Linked DNA regions of Homo sapiens: regions 2 and 3 are each linked to region 1. Evidence: fine-mapped expression QTL. A gene starts in region 1. Each other region holds a variant in brackets. All regions are shown on one strand. Distances are from middle to middle. Region 1 holds the start of IRAK2 (interleukin 1 receptor associated kinase 2). Region 2 overlaps TATDN2 (TatD DNase domain containing 2). Region 3 overlaps IRAK2 (interleukin 1 receptor associated kinase 2).

The links. PIP is the estimated chance that this variant, and not a neighbour inherited with it, causes the effect. A credible set is the group of variants that fine-mapping cannot tell apart.
Region 2: its variant is the best candidate, but not a certain one, in a credible set for the expression of IRAK2 in whole blood (TOPMed, PIP 0.89).
Region 3: its variant is the best candidate, but not a certain one, in a credible set for the expression of IRAK2 in whole blood (TOPMed, PIP 0.87).

The regions. Positions count from the first base shown.
Region 1 is chr3:10,161,611-10,167,844 of GRCh38, forward strand. It overlaps IRAK2 (interleukin 1 receptor associated kinase 2), which reads left to right and starts at 3,309. Exons shown (of 13, transcript NM_001570.4): 1 at 3,309-3,438. The coding sequence starts at 3,345. RefSeq lists silencers at 3,144-3,273, 3,474-3,623.
Region 2 is chr3:10,268,227-10,274,460 of GRCh38, forward strand. It overlaps TATDN2 (TatD DNase domain containing 2), which reads left to right. Exons shown (of 8, transcript NM_014760.4): 4 at 1,905-2,789. Among named protein-coding and RNA genes, the nearest start is that of MIR12127, 9.0 kb to the right of the region's middle. The variant CG/C (reference allele first, on the strand shown) is at 3,547.
Region 3 is chr3:10,216,499-10,222,732 of GRCh38, forward strand. IRAK2 (interleukin 1 receptor associated kinase 2) reads left to right here. Exons shown (of 13, transcript NM_001570.4): 7 at 436-550; 8 at 3,182-3,291; 9 at 6,138-6,234. LOC124906338 (U6 spliceosomal RNA) reads left to right here and starts at 714; the gene lies at 714-821. The variant A/G (reference allele first, on the strand shown) is at 3,112.

The DNA of each region.
Region 1 (6,234 bases):
GGCTGAATGTGAAACTTCCGTGGTCTTAAAGCCTCACCCCAGGGAAGAGGCCCTGTGGCACTGAGGGAGGAGCTCTACACACACGCTGCTTGCGGAAGAGAAGGAGAAGCAGGTAGGGGACTCTGCAAAAAGAGAAAAGGAGAAAAAGAAGAGGATCTTTATTCTCTTTTACCCCCGTGTGCCTGGGATGGAGATGCTTCTCCACCCAGCCTATGGCAAACAATCATTACAGTTCCCAAGTCCACCTTCAGCCACTGCTGAAAACACAGGACTTCACTTGAAAAGTAGTCTCAGAACACTGAAATATGTCCCACTTTCAACATCAAGGAGGACATAATAGTAATCCTTTACTGGGCTCAGCACTTCACAGTTGATCTTGAGCGTTTTGGAGTCCATTTAGGCTTCATAACAATCCTTCCAAGTGGCTGCAGCAGGAGATCCAGTTTCCAAAAGGGAAAACAGAACTGGCTCAAAGGACTAAGAGCCGGAGAGTGGCTGAACCAGGTCTCCAAACTTGATAGGACTCCAAGGCCAGTGGGTGCCTTTTCAAGACCACTAATGACAGCTACCATTTTTTGGGCACATTCTCTGTGCGAGGAAAGCCCTGTAGTAGGTGTTCTATATAGGCTACATAATTTGATTTATTCCACTCCCCTCACAACTCTAAGCAGTAGGAAGGAGCAGGCCCACTTTACAGATGCTGGAAACAAGGCTTGACGAATGAAATGAGTTGTCCAGAGTCACAAAGCCTGTTGGTGGCAGAACTGCAACTTGGCCCTAGGACTTCTCACTTTGATTTCAGCTTCCTCCTTTTGCAGCGCTACTCCATAGCTGACGGCCACAGCTATACAGTGGTACCTACTCTAGTTACTTATCTGCCCTTCGTGACCTCGCCTAACCTCTTGGAATCTATTTACTTCTGTGTAAAATGGGGATAATAATATCTATAGTATAGGCTTGTAAGAATGACATAAGATCATTTTTGCAAAGTACATTGTAGATACAGATAAATGTATCTGTATCTACAATATACTTTAGCCAGTGGTGATGGAGAGCCTGGGGTCAGAATACTTAGGTTCAAATGATTTTAGCCATATTATTTAACCTCTCTGTGCCTTAGTTTCCTTATTTGTAGAATGGGGCTATAACCATACCTACCTCAGAGGGTCATTGTAAGGAGTAAGTAAAGTAACCCAGGTGAAGGCTACACATAGTAAGTGCTCAATAAATACTAGCTATTTTATATATGTGTGTGTGTATTTTATATATATATATATATATATATATATATATATATATGTATACACACACTATAAATTCTGTTCCTTGTACCCTCTTTGTTTATTTAGAGACAGGGTCTCACTCTCACCCAGGCTGGAGTGCAGTGGTGCAATCTTGGCTCACTGCAATCTCCACCTCCTGGGCTCAAGTGATCCCCCTACCTTAGCCTCCCAAGTACCTGGGACTACAGGCACATGCCACCATGCCTGGCTAATTTTTGTAGAGACAGGGTCTTGCTCTGTTTCCCAGGCTGGTCTCGAATTCCTGGGCTCAAGCGATCTGCCTGCCTCTGCCTCCCAAAGTGCTGGGGTTATAGGTGGGAGCCGCCGCACCCAGCCCCTTATACCCTATTTAATAATCCAGTTTGTCCTGCAGTCCCCTGCACCATACTCTGCTTTTTTCCCAGTAATAGTATCATCTAAGATAATGCAATTGGCCACTTGCACTCCCTTTTACCACCCTCTACTTTTATTCTTTCTTTTCTTTCTTTTTTTTTTTTTTTTTTTCAGAGACAGGGTCTCATTCTGTCACTCAGGCTGCAGTGCAGTCATAGCTCACTGCAGCCTCAAACTCCTGGGTTCAAGAGATCCTACCACCTTAGCCTCCTGAGTAGCTGGGACTATAGGTGTACACTACCATGCTTGGCTCATTTTAAAATTTTTTGTAGAGGCCAGGCGTGGTGGCTCATGCCTGTAATCCTAGCACTTTGGGAGGCCGAGGCAGGCGGATCACGAGGTCAGGAGTTCAAGACCATCCTGGCCAACACAGTGAAACCCTGTCTCTACTAAAAATACAAAAATTAGCTGGGCGTGGTGGCGCGTGCCTGTAATCCCAGCTACTCGGGAGACTGAGGCAGGAGAATTGCTTGAACCGGGACCTGGGAGGCAGAGGCTGCAGTGAGCCAAGATTGCGCCACTGCACTCCAGCCTGGGCTACAGAGCAAGACTCCGTCTCAAAAAAAAAAAGTTTTTTGTAGAGATAAGATCTTCCTATGTTGCCCAGGCTTCTACTTTCATTCTCCAACATAGCTTATCTGCCTATTTTTATTGCTTGTTGTCTGTCTCCCTCCAGGACAAGGATTTTGTCCTTCTCTTCAGAGGTATTCCCAGCACCTACAACAGTGCCTGGCACATAGTAGCTGCACGATACATATTAGCTACTATAGTAAAGTCTACCTGACTACCCTATTTAATAGAATATTCCCCATGCTCAATCTGAATTCCTGATTCCCTTTAACCAACTTTTTTTCCTTTTTTTTTTTTTTTGCAATAGTGCTTATTACCTTTAAGACACTCTGTAACATACTATATTTATTATTTATTGTTAGTCTTTCTCTCCACACCTAGATTGTAAGTCTTATGAAAGCAAGGGCTTTTGTAGGCTTTTTTTTTTTTTTTTTTTTTTTTTTGAGACAGAGCCTCACTCTTCACCCAGGCTGGAGTACAAGGGCACAATCTGGGCTTACTGCAACCTCCGCCTCCAGGGTTCAAGCGATTCTTCTGCCTCAGCCTCCCAGGTAGCTGGGACTACAGGCGTGCGCCACCGTGCCCGGCTAATTTTTGTATTTTTAGTAGTGACGGGGTTTCACCATATTGGCCAGGCTAGTCTCGAACTCCTGACCTCGTGATCCGTCCGCCTCGGCCTCCCAAAGTACTGGGATTACAGGAGTGATCCACCGCGCCCGGCTGTAGGGTTTCTTATTCAGGTATTACCAACACCTAGGGAGTTGCCTGGCATACAGTAGGTAATTAATGGAGTATTTGATGAGCGCATGATGCATGGTGTAGTGCCGATGGAAGTGGGGTCAGAAGGCCTCCTGCCGCTGCGGCAGAATTCCCGTGTGGCCTTCTCCCACCAGGGCCTCAGTTTCCCCTCGCAGTTCCGATTCTCTGGCCGGCGCTGGGGTGGAGCCGGCGGGGCCGTCGTGCCGCCCGTGGCCGCTGGGGACGCTGGTGCCCTCCCGCCCCGCCCACTTCCCCGCCGGTCCGCCCCTGGCTAGAGAAGCCGCAGCCCGCAGTGTCCGACCCAGTCGTCCCGCGCCGGAGCCGGCCCCGTAGCGTGCCATGGCCTGCTACATCTACCAGCTGCCCTCCTGGGTGCTGGACGACCTGTGCCGCAACATGGACGCGCTCAGCGAGTGGGACTGGATGGAGTTCGGTGAGTGCGGCCCGGGGAGGGGAGGGGACCAGGGCGACCGGAGCCCCCAGCGATCCCGCCTGGAGCGGCCGCCAAGCTCCCTCGGGCACCCGGGTTCAGCGGGTCCCGATCCGAGGGCGTGCGAGCTGAGCCTCCTGGACCGGGTCCGCCGCGGACCTCGGCCTGTCACCTGAAGGTGCCGCGTGGTCTCTGAGGACGTCTGTCGACGAGCAGGGGCCGCCGCCACTGCGCTCTGAGTCCAGAGAACGGTGGGTACGGGGGCCCTCCTGTCAGCGCTGCTGGCTCGGTGACGTCCCCAGGTGGCCTCTCATCCAGCCCACAACAGCCTGCAAAGTGCGAGCCTCGACCCTGTAGGGACCCACGGTGCTGTCACTTCTTGGGGGGGTGTGTGTGTGTGTGTGTGTGGTGTGTTTAGTTTTAGTGTATATTAGAAGGATCTATGATTTAACATATATATATATATTGAAACGGAGTTTCGCTGTTGTTGCCCAGGCTGGAGTGCAATGGCACGGTCTCGGCTCACTGCAACCTCCACCTCTGGGATTCAAGCGATTTTCCTGCCTCGGCCTCCCGAGTAGCTGGGATTACAGGCGCCCGCTACCACCCTGGCTAATTTTTTGTATTTTCAGTAGAGACCGGGTTTCACCATGTTGGCCAGACTGGTCTTGAACTATTTTTTTTTTTTTTTTTTTTTTTTTTTAAGACGGAGTCTCACTCTGTCGCCCAGGCTGGAGTGCAGTGGCGCGATCTAGGCTCGTTGCAAGCTCCGCCTCCCGGGTTCACGCCATTCTCCTGCCTCAGCCTTCTGAGTAGCTGGGACTACAGGCGCCCGCCACCACGCCCGGCTAACTTTGTATTCTTAGTAGAGACGGGGTTTCACCGTGTTAGCCAGGATGGTCTGGATCTCCTGACCTTGTGATCCGCCCACCCTGGGCCTCCCAAAGTGCTGGGATTACAGGCATGAGCCACCGCGCCCGGCCTCCGGAACTCTTGATCTCAGGCGATCCACCTGCTTCGGCCTCCCAAAGTGCTGGGATTACAGGCGTGAGCCACTGTGCCCAGCCTATTTATCATATTTGTGATTAAATGTACTTTACCATTATAGTTTTAAAATCAGATATTTACTTTTAGTGTACATTGTTTTGATCACAGTATTTATGACTATCAACCTGTTTTGAGATCAGATGTGTCCTAATAGATTCAGTGTGTATAATGGGGCCTAAGCACAAGCACTTACTTTCACTCTATTGCAAGGTGCACAGTTCTAGATAATTCCGTGGGAAGGCACTCAGACAGCCTCCATATGTTTTGTTTGTTGGTGCCTGACGGATGACTGGCGGAGAGGGCCATGGACTCTGCGGGGAGGCCGCTTGCCTGTTGTCTCTGCTTTCCAGGTGGAGATCTGCATTCCAGGCTCTTGCTGTATGACTTTGGGCCAGTTTGTTAACCTCTCTGAGCCTCAGCTTCTGAATCTGTATGTAAACTGGAGATGATAATTATAGCTTCTTCATAAAGTTGTGAGGAATGAAAATACTGTATAAAAGCACTGACACCTAAGTGTTAAATATTCTTATAAGTCATAAGTTGTAATATTCTCTTTTCATTTTTATTTTTTTGAGACAGTCTCATTCTGTGGCCCAGGCTGGAATGCAGTGGCGAGATCTCGGCTCACTGCAGCTTCCGCCTCTTGGATTCAAGTGATTCTCTTGCCTCAGCCTCCCGAGTAGCTGGGATTACAGGCATGTGCCACCACGCCCACTAATTTTTATGTTTTTAGTAGAGATGGGGTTTCGCCATGTTGGCCAGGCTGGTCTCGAACTCCTGACCTCATGTGATTTGGCCGCTTTGGCCTCCCAAAGTGCTGGGATTACAGGCGTGAGCCACTGCTCCTGGACCTGGCTTCACTACTTTGAATGTTTCCTGGGCAGTGAACAAACTTTGTGTGAGACTCCCTCTCATTTTTTCCACATTGGCCCAGCCCTCAGTTACAAATGCCAGAACAACTTCTGTTTCTAGGAAATTCAATTAGAAGGCATACCTATGACTTAAAAAAAAAATAAAGCTTTACTGAGATATTCACATACCATACAATCCACCTGTTTCAGGAGTACAATTTAGTGGTATTTAGTATATTCACAGGGCTGTGTATCCATCTTCACAATCAATCTTAGAACATTTTAATCACCCGAAGAAGAAACTCTGTACCCGTTAACTTCCAATCCCCTCCTTCCATTTTCCTGAGTTTTAGACATTGCCTATTTTGGACATTTCATATAAATGGAATCATATAATATATAGTGCTCTGTGACTGACTTGTTTCAACTAACATGAGGTTCATCCATGTTGTAGCATGCGTCAATACTTAGTTTCTTTTTTTTTTTTTTGAGACGGAGTCTCGCTTTGTCACCCAGGCTGGAGTGCAGTGGCGCAATCTCGGCTCACTGCAAGCTCCACCTCCTGGGTTCATGCCATTCTCCTGCTTCAGCCTCCCTAGCAGCTTGGACTACAGGTGCCTGCCACCATGCCCGGCTAATTTTTTTGTATTTTTAGTAGAGATGGGGTTTCACTGTGTTAGCCAGGATGGTCTTGATCTCCTGACCGTGTAATCCACCTACCTCGGCTTCCCAAAGTGCTGGGATTACAGGCGTGAGCCACCGCGCCCAGCCAGTTTCTTTTTATTGTAGGATAATGTTCCATGGTATGGATATACTACATTTCATTCATTTATCAGTTGTTGGGCATTGGGTTCTTTTCACTTTTGGGCCATTGTGAATAGTGCTGCTGTGAACACTCACA
Region 2 (6,234 bases), 110 kb after region 1:
GAAAGTATAAAATGGGAAATGGGTAATTCATTTAAGTGTTGGTTACTAATACTTGTTTCCTGTTAGAGTGTAGTTAGGGGTATGAAATATTAGTACAGCCAACATAAACAGTTTTGTTCCATTTTAATCAGGTAATTCAGCTAGAATGCTCTTTCATTGTGAATGTTTGTTTTATTATGTGAATTACATATACTCATAAAAGTATTAAGAGAACTTTGTAAGGCCTCTTGCTCATCAAGCCTTCTGTCATTGGCAGGTATAGATGGCTGCTTTAAGAAGAAATGATGGCACTTAAATTTTGTTTCCAGCATGAATTGATATTGATGTGCTTACTGTATTTCTCAAACCTGGTCTGCATCACAATTCCGGGGAGAGTTAAATGCAGATTCCTTGGCCCCACCTTGGACCTATTGAATCACAATATCTCAGGGTGGAATGGGCCTTAAAAATCTGTTTTTAAAATGCTACCCAGTTGATGGAGATGTGATGCTAAGTTGAGGCACCATTTATTCTAAAAATTAATTCAGCAGATATTCATGAGCACTCAGTATCTGCCAGGCACTGTTCTAGGTGTTGGGGAGACATCAGTGGAAAAAAAATAAAAATTCCTGATCTCGTGGCGCTTACCTTCTCTAGTAGGACTAAGCCGATTTAATGCAAGGGATGGTTGTTTCAGTCACTATTACTAGTTAGTAGCTTAAAATAACTTTTCTTTTGCTCTCAGTACTGTGGGTCAGGAATTTGGAAAGGCCTAGACTGGGGCAGGTGTTTCTTGGGGAGCCCCATGTAGTTCCTTTCAGATTTTGGCGAGGGCTGTCGTCATCTGAGAGTGTGACTGGGCTGGACATCCGAGATGTTCACTTACATGGTGGACAGATGTTGGCTGTCAGCCAGTAAGTCAGCCAGGCTGTAAACTGGCACACCTACATGTGGCCTCTCTAGCAGGATGTCATTTGGGTTGCCGGACTTCTTACATGGTGCTTGGCTTGCTCCAGAGTGAGCAAGTGGAGTGAACCAGATGGAAGCTACAAGGCCCTTCTGACCTGGCCTTGGAAGTTACACAGCTTCGCTTCTGTTGCATTCTTTTGGCTATAAGTAAGTCTCTAGGTAGGTCCAGATTAAGGGGAGGGGTCATAGACCCCACTCTCAATGGGGAGAAGGGTTAAATAATTCGGGGACACGTTTAAAAACTGTCACAATGGCCAGGTGTGGTGGCTTATGCCTGTAATTTCAGCATTTTGGGAGGCCAAGGCAGGAGGATTGCTTGAGTCCAGGAGTTTGAGACCAGCCTGGGCAATATAGGGAGACCCCCTACCTACAAGAAATTAGCCAGATGTGGTGGTGCGTGCCTGTAGTCCCAGCTACTTGGATGGCTGAGGCAAGAGGATTACTTGAGCCCAGTAGTTCAAGGTTTCAGTGAGTCGAGATCTCACCACCGCATTCCAGCCTGGGCAACAGAGCAAGACCCTGTCTGAAAAAAAAATACAACTGCCACAGCTGTTGTAATTTTACATTTTGAATATATTGACGACAGTGTCAGAGAGGAAAAGCTGGGCACTGCTTTTCTCTAAAATCTCCAATCCGGAGTGTGTTCTAGAGAGCAGTTTTTCTCAAGAGAAAGGGATGCAGGTAGAGCACCACCTTTAGGAGTAGCATGATGAGGCCATGGTCACAGGCCTATTCCCTGAACCCAATACAGCTGTTCACAGCAGTAACTTGGCTCAGTTCTGGACATTTCTGGAAATTGTAAGGAAACCAGGTGACAGGGTGAGCTAATGAGCCAATGCAAAGCCATCACCATGGCCAGAAGAACAAGCCAGGGTTTATGTTCAGCTGATGACAGCCTGGGAGGCCATCTTCACATCGGAAGGCTAACCCACTGTTGTATGCCTTCTTTTCTGCAGCATAAAGATAGGGAGGTGGTGATGGAGCACCCCTCTTCTGGAAGTGACTGGTCTGATGTTGAGGAGATCTCCACAGTCAGATTCTCTCAGGAGGAACCTGTCTCCCTGAAACCTTCAGCCGTTCCGGAGCCTTCTTCCTTCACCACCGACTATGTCATGTACCCTCCTCATTTGTACAGTAGTCCTTGGTGTGACTACGCCAGCTATTGGACCAGCAGCCCCAAGCCTTCTAGCTACCCCTCCACAGGCAGCAGCAGCAACGATGCAGCCCAGGTTGGGAAGAGCAGCCGGAGCCGCATGAGTGATTATTCCCCCAACTCTACAGGGAGTGTCCAAAACACCTCCAGAGACATGGAGGCCTCAGAGGAAGGCTGGTCCCAGAATTCTCGTTCATTTCGCTTCTCCAGAAGCTCAGAAGAAAGAGAGGTGAAGGAGAAAAGAACATTCCAAGAGGAGATGCCTCCGCGTCCTTGTGGAGGACACGCATCCAGCTCCCTGCCAAAGAGCCACCTGGAGCCAAGCCTAGAGGAGGGCTTCATTGACACTCATTGTCACCTGGACATGCTCTATTCCAAGCTATCTTTCCAAGGGACCTTTACAAAGTTCAGAAAAATTTACAGCAGCTCCTTCCCTAAGGAATTTCAGGGCTGCATCTCTGACTTCTGTGATCCCCGCACCCTGACAGATTGCCTATGGGAGGAGCTGTTGAAAGAGGATCTGGTCTGGGGGGCCTTTGGCTGTCACCCTCATTTTGCACGTTACTACAGTGAGAGTCAAGAAAGAAATCTTTTGCAAGCCTTAAGGCACCCTAAGGCTGTGGCATTTGGAGAAATGGGCTTGGATTACTCTTACAAGTGCACCACGCCTGTCCCAGAACAGCACAAGGTAACAAGGCTCTCTTTAGTCTGCTTATAGTTTTAATTTTTCTTTTAGTTGTTGAAGCCTGACAATAAGGGTTTATCTAATTTTAGAAGTAAATAATTGAGAATCCCTGAAAACGCAGTGTGCTTGCTCTCATCCAGACCATCTAGATGCCATTTGTCAAATGCTTTACAAGCTATTTCTTACTGTTCAGCTTTATTATGGAAGATGAGGGAGAAGTACTTTGTGACTTCTTATGGATGATATCAATGTCAAAACATTTGTTTTCTTTCTTTCTTGGGAAGCAATAAACTTTAGGTTTTCTTAATTGATTTTTTGAGAGGGAGTCTTGCTCTTTTGCCCAGGCTTTGGAGTGCAGTGGTGCGATCTCAGCTCGCTGCAACCTCCGCCTCCTGGGTTCAAACTGTTTTCCTGCCTCAGCCTCCCAAGTAGCTGGGATTACAGGCGTGCATCACTACACCCGGCTAATTTTTGTATTTTTAATAGAGACCATGTTGGCCAGGTTGGTATTGAACTCCTGACCTCAGGTGATCCACCCGCCTTGGCCTCCGAAAGTGCTGTGATTACAGGCATGAGCCACTGCGCCTGGCCTGCATTGTTTTTTTTAAATATACCCATTGCAGAATATTTGAAAAAATATGAAAAAATGCATAATTTCCCATTCAACCAGAGATCATGGCTAATACTCTGTTAATATTTTTTTCTTTTTCTTTTTGGAGACAGAATCTCACTCTGTCACCCAGGCTGGAGGGCAGTGGCA[CG/C]ATCTCGGCTCACTGCGGCCTCCACCTCCGCCTCCGCCTCCGCCTCCTGGGTTCAAGCGATTCTCCTGCCTCAGCCTCCCGAGTAGCTGAGACTGCAGGTGTGTGCCACCTTGCGTGGCTAATTTTTGTATTTTTAGTAGAGGTGGGGTTTCACCATGTTTGTTAGACTAGTCTCGAGCTCCTGACCTCAAGTAATCCACCTGCCTCGGCGTCCGAAAAGTGCTGGGATTACAGACCTGAGCCACTGCGCCCGCCCCCTGTTAATATTTTTTTTCCTCCCAATATTTTTTGAGCATAGTGCTTTGGCAGGGTAAGAGTTGTAGTATTTTAGAATTTCTTTTCTTTTTTTTTCAGAGATAAGGTCTTTGTCGCCCACACTGGAGTTCAGTGGTGCAGCCACAGCTCACTGCAGCCTTGACCTCCTGGGCTCAAGTGATCCTCCCACCTCAGCCTCCCAAGTAGCTGGGACTGCAGGTGCACACCACCACGCCTGGCTAATTAAAAATAAAAATTTTTTTGAGATGGAGTCTTGCTGTGTCACCCAGGCTGGAGGGCAGCGGTACGATCTCAGCTCACTGCTACCTCCACCTCCCCAGTTCAAGTGATTCTCCTGGCTCAGCCTCCTGAGTAGCTGGGATTACAGGTGCCTGCCACCACACCCGGCTAATTTTTTTTTTTTTTTAAGGCAGAGTTTCACTCTTGTTGGCCAGGCTGGAGTGCAATCGCATGATATTGGCTCACTGCAGCCTCCAGTTCCCAGGTTCAAGCGATTCTCTTGCCTCAGCCTCCTGAGTAGCTGGGATTATAGACTCCCGCCACCACGCCCAGCTAATTTTTTGTATTTACAGGATCACACCTGTAATCCCAGTATTTTGGGAGGCCGAGGCAGGCGGATCACCTGAGGCCAGGAGTTGGAGACCAGCCTGGCCAACGTGGCGAAACCCCGTCTCTATTAAAAATACAAAAATTAGCTGGGTATAGCTGGGTGTGGTGACTCATGCCTGTAATCCCAGCACTTTGGGAGGCCAAGGCGAGCGGATCACCTGAGGCCAGGAGTTGGAGACCAGCCTGGCCAACATGGTGAAACCCTATCTCTACCAAAAAAAAAAAAAAAAATTAGCTGGGTGTGATGGTACATGCCTGGGGTCCCAGCTACTCAGGAGGCTGAGGCAGGAGGATTGCTTGAGCCTGGGAGGTTGAGCTGCAGTGACCCATGATTATGCTCCAGCCTGGGTGACAGAGTGAGACCCTGTCTCAAGACAAAATTATCAGGGTCTCAGGTCTGCACTTAAAGGTCCATGGGGCGACCTGCACAACAAACTGAACTAGAAGCGATAGGCATAGGGGGATAAACACAGTCTTGAAGATGTCATTTGGCTTGGTGAGATTTGACTCAAGACTGGAAGATAATGAGTCTGAGGAGTTGCTGGCTGGGAGAGGGCTAAGCTGCCTGTAAAGGGGAGGAAGACTAGAAAATATTTGTCAACACCAGAGACTCCTAGGCTGGGTGGGGGATATGGACACTGTTTTGATGTAAATAAAAAATTTGGCACCCAAATGAGGTGAATGGTGGTGACTGGCAACTGCACCTAGTTGGATGTCAGTGCTGAGTTGCATTTACCTAAAAGAGCAGTTAGCAAGTTCTGGATGTGTCCTGCTGAATGTTTTATCTTGTGAAGGGAAGAAGAAGAACCTATAGAGGGCTGGGCGAGGTGGCTCACGCCTGTAATCCCAACACTTTGGGAGTCTGAGGCAGGAGATTGCTTGAGCCTAGGAGTTCAAGATGAGCCAAGGCAACATAGTGAGACCCCATCTTTATTACATTAAAAAAAAAAAAGAGCCTGTGGAAGGTCTGTATCTGGGCAAGATGATAGGGTGACAGACCCTGCTCATTATAGGAGAGTTTGGTTGATGTACCTAAAATTTTCTGGAAGGATTGGAAAATAGAGAAAAGCAAAACAATTGGGGAAAGAATGGGTAGTTATAGTTATTCTGCTGGTTAGAGCAAATTACTGTTAACGTTTTCTTTGTTGATCTGTGGTGTTTACAGATTAACTATGTAACTCATAAGAGTTAGATCCTGAATAGTTTGTGTGTAAGTTGCACATGTCAGCATCTGGGAGGGATGCCAGGGAGAGTAGACTGTCCTTCCCTACCCAGGCTGTATCTCTTTACTTGTGTTAAAGAGGAATTAATTAATTATTAAAGTAATAAATATGCAAGAGATGCCTGGGGCAACTCCCAGGAGAGACTAACTCTGGAATCCCTGGAAATAATGGATCAGTTAGGAAGCCAACCTTATGCAGGTAGAAGTGAGTAATTATACTGGGTAATAACTCATCTGTACTTCCTTCACTCCTGTTGTTTTTCAGCTGGGTTCCTGGTGAGGACAAATGCTGCAAATAGCTCCTGTCCAACCACAAGTTCCTGCATTCTAATGAGTTCTTCTTCCTTCTTAACATTTTTGAAATCTGGATGTGTTTCATGAAACATTATAAATGTAATGTTATTGTTCCTTGGAAAATTGCAAGGTACAATACAATTGCAAGGAACAGTTGCACAGTGGCTTGTCTTCCATGCACCTGTCGTAGGTTGGATGTGTGTGCTTGTGTTAAAGAAAGAAATTAGGAAATTAAATAGTTTTAAGTGTCTTTTCTACTCGTGAAATTTTCCCATTCATCAGCTAT
Region 3 (6,234 bases), 55 kb after region 1:
CAGGAAAGAGTGGTCAGAGAGGTAGGAGGAAAGTCAGGAGGGAATGGTGACTGAGAACCAGCAGAAGAGGATTTCAGGAAAGAACCCCAGTCCTAGAGTCAGGCAGGTGTGGGATCTGGTCCTGGCTTTACTGCTTTCTAGTTTGTGACCTTGGGCAAGTCCCTTAACCTCTCAGTCTCCGTTTCTGGAGATGGGGCAGTTGAGATGTCATGTGTTGCAGAGCAGTAAAGCAGGATGAGGACCACCATACTCGTTGAAGGCAGACAGTTTTCATCTTTCCACCCTGGGGCCAGGCCCTTAGGGGTCAGAGTATGTGGTACCTGGGAGGTTATTGGTGGCGTTGGAGGAGGAGAGGGCAGAAGAGGGGTGGGACATGAGGAAGTAGATCATTCTTTCCGTCTGACTCCTCACACCTGCACTGACGCCCGATTCCAGATGCTGCCACCCCAATGTCTTACCTGTGCTGGGCTTCTGTGCTGCAAGACAGTTTCACAGCTTCATCTACCCCTACATGGCAAATGGTTCCCTACAGGACAGACTGCAGGGTCAGGTAAGGGACTGGGTCATGGTCAGAGAATGGGACCAGGCTGCACCCAGCCATGGGGTCAAGGGTTAAGGACTTACAGAAGTTCAGAGGGGAGAGGGGCCATCTAGGTGAGACCAGGGAGACTTCAAGGAGAGAAGTGGGGCCAGGATACATAAGATCTGGTTAAGTGCTCACTTTGGCAGCACATATACCAAAATTGGAACGATACAGAGAAGATCAGCATGGCCTCTGAATGAGGATGACAAAATATGAAAAAGAAAAAGAAAAGCTCAAAAAGATCTGATTAAACATCTTCAGGAAAAATCTATAAAAAATTATTTGACGAGAAGCATTTCATTCAAATCAAGAGCAGGACAAAGGTATCTCATAGAACTAACTTCGTTCGTCATGGTTCTGGAGGTGTTAGCCAATGCAGTAGGACAAGAAAAAGAATTAAGAGGTAAAGAGTATGGAAAAGTGGAGGTGAATTTTTATTATAAAATGTTCTTCTAATATATACCTATTTGCTTGTGTGTTTATGGAATGTCTCTGGAAAGATACACAAGAAACTGGTTTACTGGCTGCTGCTAGGGAGCAGAACTAGGTGATTGGGGCCTAGGATAAGAAGCAAACTTACTATTAGAGTATTATATCATGTGAAGGTAATCCTTAATAAAAATTACAGTGTTTTAAAACAGGTCTTCTGCTTATCTTATCCTCAAATAGAGGGGAAAGAGTTATTCCATAACAGAATTATTGCTTCCCATGGCAGGGACAAGACAAAGCAGTTACTCACGGCATACTAATGATCTTTAGCTTTTCTGGGCACTCACTGTATGCAGGTTGCTGTGATAAGGGTTTTACGTAGGTCATCACCTCCAGGCCGTGCCACAACCAAAGCAATTTCTTCCCTCATTTTTCAAAAGAGGAATCTCTGACACATAGAGACAAAGTGACTTGCCCAAAGGAACATAGAGGACAAATGTCAGGCCAGAGCTTACATTGGGTTCGTCTGGCTCTAGGTTTCAGAGTTTTTGAGAAGAAATTAGCAGGGGCTGTCCAGGCCAGTTCTTAGAGGATGTGGGACCTACACCAGGGCTTCAAAAATAGGTGATGAGGCTGGGCACAGTGGCTCACGCCTGTAATCCCAGTACATTGGGAAGCCGAGGTGGGTGGATCACTTGAGGTCAGGAGTTTGACACCAGCCTGACCAATATGGTGAAACCCTGTCTCTACTAAAAATATAAGAATTAGCCAGGCGTGGTGGCGTGTGCCTGTAGTACCAGCTACTGAGGAGGCTGAGACAGGAGAATCACTTGAACCCGGGAGGCAGAGGTTGCGGTGAGCCGAGATTGCACCACTGCACTCCAGCCTGGGCGACAAAGTGAGACTCCGTCTCAAAAAAAAAAAAAAAAAAAAAACCAAAACGGTGATGATTTAGCCTGGGAGAGTCAGTCTTAGAACAACAGTGGGAGCAAATGAGAGGCTTTAGCCCATCCCACAATCCCCATCAGCCCTGGTGAAGTTTCCCCTAATACAGATAAAATCAGCGTAAGGCCCAGGTGCTTGGCTTGCAAACACAAGCTCCCTAGCTCCTCTCCCATCCAGCTTCTTTTAGAGAGAAATTCCAGAGCAGCCTCTGTAATGGACATGATAAAAATAACTGCTGATTGAGCACCTACTGTGTGGCAGGTGCTATGCTAGGGGTATACCATATACTCCCTTGAATCCTTACAGCAACCCTAAAATATAGGGATTAACATTTCCATTTTATACCCAAGGAAACTGAGGCTCAGAGATGTTAAGTGTCTTTTTCCAAAATTATACAGCTAATGCATGTCTGAACTGGGAGTTACACCTAGATCTGTCTGATGTCAAAACCCATAGTACAGGGTCAGGCACATGGCTCATGCCTGTAATTCCAGCACTTTGGGAGAGCGAGGTGGACGGATCGCTTGAGCCCAGGAGTTCGAGACCAGCCTGGCCAACATGGCAAAACCCTGTCTCCACGAAAAATACAAAAATTAGTTGAGAGTGGTGGCACGTGCCTGTGATCCCAGCTATTCGGGAGTCTGAGGCGGGAGAGTCACTTCAGCCTGGGATTTTAAGGCTACAGTGAGCTATGATGCTGCACTCCAGTCTGGGTGACAGAGCAAGACCTGTCTCAAAACCAGCAAACACAAAACAATGAAAAAACTCACAGTATCATGCTGAGCCCTGTGACAGAGGACATGAAGGGTGGGAGGAGGATCAGGAGCCTGGGACCCTGCCATCAGGACTTCGTTTTTTTGTTTTTGTTTTTGTTTTTTTTTGAGATGGAGTCTCGCTCTGTCACCCAGGCTGCAGTGCAGTGGTGCAATCTCGGCTTACTGCAAGCTCTGCCTCCTGGGTTCACGCCATTCTCCTGCCTCAGCCTCCCAAATAGCTGGGACTACAGGCAGCCGCCACCAGGACCGGCTAATTTTTTGTATTTTTAGTAGAGATGGGGTTTCACCGTGTTAGCCAGGATGGTCTCGATCTCCTGAACTAGTGATCTGCCTGCCTGGGCCTCCCAGTGTGCTGGGATTACAGGTGTGAGCCACCGC[A/G]CCTGGCTGCCATCAGGACTTTAAAAAGGTACATTGTGACTATTTGTCCTCCTGCTTTTCTTTCTCTTAGGGTGGCTCGGACCCCCTCCCCTGGCCCCAGCGTGTCAGCATCTGCTCAGGGCTGCTCTGTGCCGTCGAGTACCTGCATGGTCTGGAGATCATCCACAGCAACGTCAAGAGGTGAGAGAGGTGGGCTGGACCCTGCTGGGGCCTGGGCTGCAAGGGTGGAACTGGTGCCTATTCCTGGCTCACCTCCCGCTCCGCCACTCACCCCTGTCCTCTTTGTTTTTCTCTTCCTACCTCCTCTCCTCTGCCCTCCCCTGGATGTCTTTTTCTCTGTTATGCCCTCAAAAATGAGTGTTTCCGGGCTGTGCTCCAAGTCCAATTGCTCTCAGGATGAATTGCCTACCTGTCACATTTGTCTTTCTGAGCTGCTGTTTTCCCAACAAGCCCTCCACACCTTGCTGCGTCGCACTGTCCACTCAGCAGCTGGCCTGGACCTCATCCTCGAACTTTGGGCCATGTCTGCCAACCCCCTGGGATTTTGAGCTCCTCGTTCAGTGTCTTTTCTGAGACCTGTCCCCTTCTTGTGTAGCTGTTGGTGTTAGCATCTTGTCTGGAAGGCTCCTGCAGGTTAGGCCTGCACCCCTGCATGTCAGTGCCATGCACATGAGAGGGAGAGGTCCCCATCTGGAGACGGTTAGGATAGGGAGGGATTCCGAAGATACCAGAATATCTGGCAGAACTGGCTCCAGAGACACAGAACTCGTATTTCCCCAAAGTTCTCTTTCCATTTGACTTGTGGAAGTCCTTTCCTCTTTTCTCTCCCCCAATTTTTTTTTTGTTTTTTGAGACGGAGTTTCACGCTTGTCACCCAGGCTGAAATGCAGTGGTGCGATCTCAGCTCACTGCAACCTCCACCTCCCTGGTTCAAGCGATTCTCCTGCCTTAGCCTCCTGAGTAGCTGGGATTACAGGTGCTCGCCACCACACCCAGCTAATTTTTGTATTTTTAGTAGATAGGCTTTCACCATGTTGGCCAGGCTAGTGTCGAACTCCTGACCTCAGGTGATCCACCCGCCTTGGTCTCCTATAGTGCTGGGATTACAGGTGAGAGCCACCACCCCGGCTCTCTCCCCTAATTTTTATTTGATTGCATCAATAATTCTAATAGCAGGCAAGGAAATGAAAGGGTGAGAGAGGTCACCACTAACCTACCCCATGACTCATCAGCTGGCCTCTAGGTTTTGTTTCTTTTTTCACTTCCTGCCTATACAAATCCTTAGTCCTGAGGTAGCACCTGGGTACCAATTCACATCCTGTTTTTTACCCCTTCATTTAAACATAGTAAACATTTCGCTACATTGTATACCGTCATGTTTTTTAGTGTCTTAGTCTTCCCGTGAAGGAATTTGCCCATAATTTACTTAACCACTCCTGGCACACACACCCGTGCATTTGCGGGCGTGCACACACACACACGCTAAAAAAGTTTTTTTTTTGGCCGGGCGCGGTGGCTCACGCCTGTAATCCCAGCACTTTGGGTGGCCAAGGCGGGCAGATCACGAGGTCAAGAGATCGAGACCATCCTGGCTAACACGGTGAAACCTCGTCTCTACTAAAAATACCAAAAAAAAAAATTTTTTTTTTTTTTTTTTTTTTTGAGATGGAGTCGCGCTCTGTGGCCCAGGCTGGAGTGCAGTGGCACAATCTCTGTTCACTGCAAGCTCCGCCTCCCAGGTTCACGCCATTCTCCTGCCTCAGCCTCCAGAGTAGCTGGGACTACAGGCGCCTGCCACCATGCCCGGCTAACTTTTTGTATTTTTAGTAGAGATAGGGTTTCACTGTGTTAGCCATGATGGTCTCGATCTCCTGACCTCGTGATCCACCCACCTTGGCCTCCCAAAGTGCTGGGATTACAGGTGTGAGCCACCGCGCCTGGCCAAAAAAAATTTTTTTTTGAGACAGGGCCTTGCTCTTTTGCCCAGGCTGGAGTACAGTGGCGCAATCTCAGCTCACCGCAGCTTCCCACCTTAGCCTCCCAAGTAGCTGGGACCACAGGCACGCACCACCATGCCGTGCTGAATTTGTTTGTTTTAGTAGAGATGAGGTCTTGCCATGCTGCCCATGCTGGTCTCAAACTCCTGGGCTCAGGTGATCCTCCTGTCTCGGCCTCACAAAGTGTTGGGATTACAGGCATGAGTCACTGCACCTGGCCTGCACTATATATCTGTACACATGTGGCTTAGCTTTTTCCCATTTTGGAGTATGTTCTCAGTGTTTGCTCCTGGGGGTTAGATGACTAGATCAAATGATTTTTTTTGAGACAGTGTACCACTCTGTTGCCCAGGCTGGAGTGCACCTCTGCTTCCGGGTTCAAGCAATTCTCCTGCCTCAGCCTCCTGAGTAGCTGGGACTACAGGCGCACACCACCACGGCTGGTTAATTTTTGTATTTTTAGTAGAGATGGAGTTTCGGCATGCTGGCCAGGCTGGTCTTGAACTCCTGACCTCAGGTGATCTGCCCATCTCGGCCTCCCAAAGTGCTGGGATTACAGGCGTGAGCCACTGTGCCCGGCCAAGAGGGAATTTTTTTTTCTTTCTTTTTTTACATGATCTGGGCAGGTTTAGTCACAAAGGATGCTGGCCACTTAGACCTGAGTCAGCCAGGCCAGAGCTGGGGGTTGGAACAGTTGTGGAAGAGACTGAGTCTGCACAGCCTGTAGGCGTGGCAAGCTGAGGCTGATCAGGGTTGGCATCTGTGGGGATCAGGGAGGCTGCACTTTGGCCACATTCCTGGGGCAGCAAGACTAAGTCTGAACTCCATCTCCATTTGCTGGAGGGAGTGTGCTCCTGATGCCCTCTCTTCCCCAGTCAGGGCTGGCTCAGAAGCTCCATGCTGAGGGTCTTTAGAGACCTCAACTTGCAGGAGGTGAGGTTGCTATATTGTCTCCCCAAAGGGTCTCCATGGCAACTTGTTGTTATCCAGCTCAAAATGAGAAGGTTCCCTCTCCTTTCATTTCCACAGCTCTAATGTCTTGCTGGACCAAAATCTCACCCCCAAACTTGCTCACCCAATGGCTCATCTGTGTCCTGTCAACAAAAGGTCAAAATACACCATGATG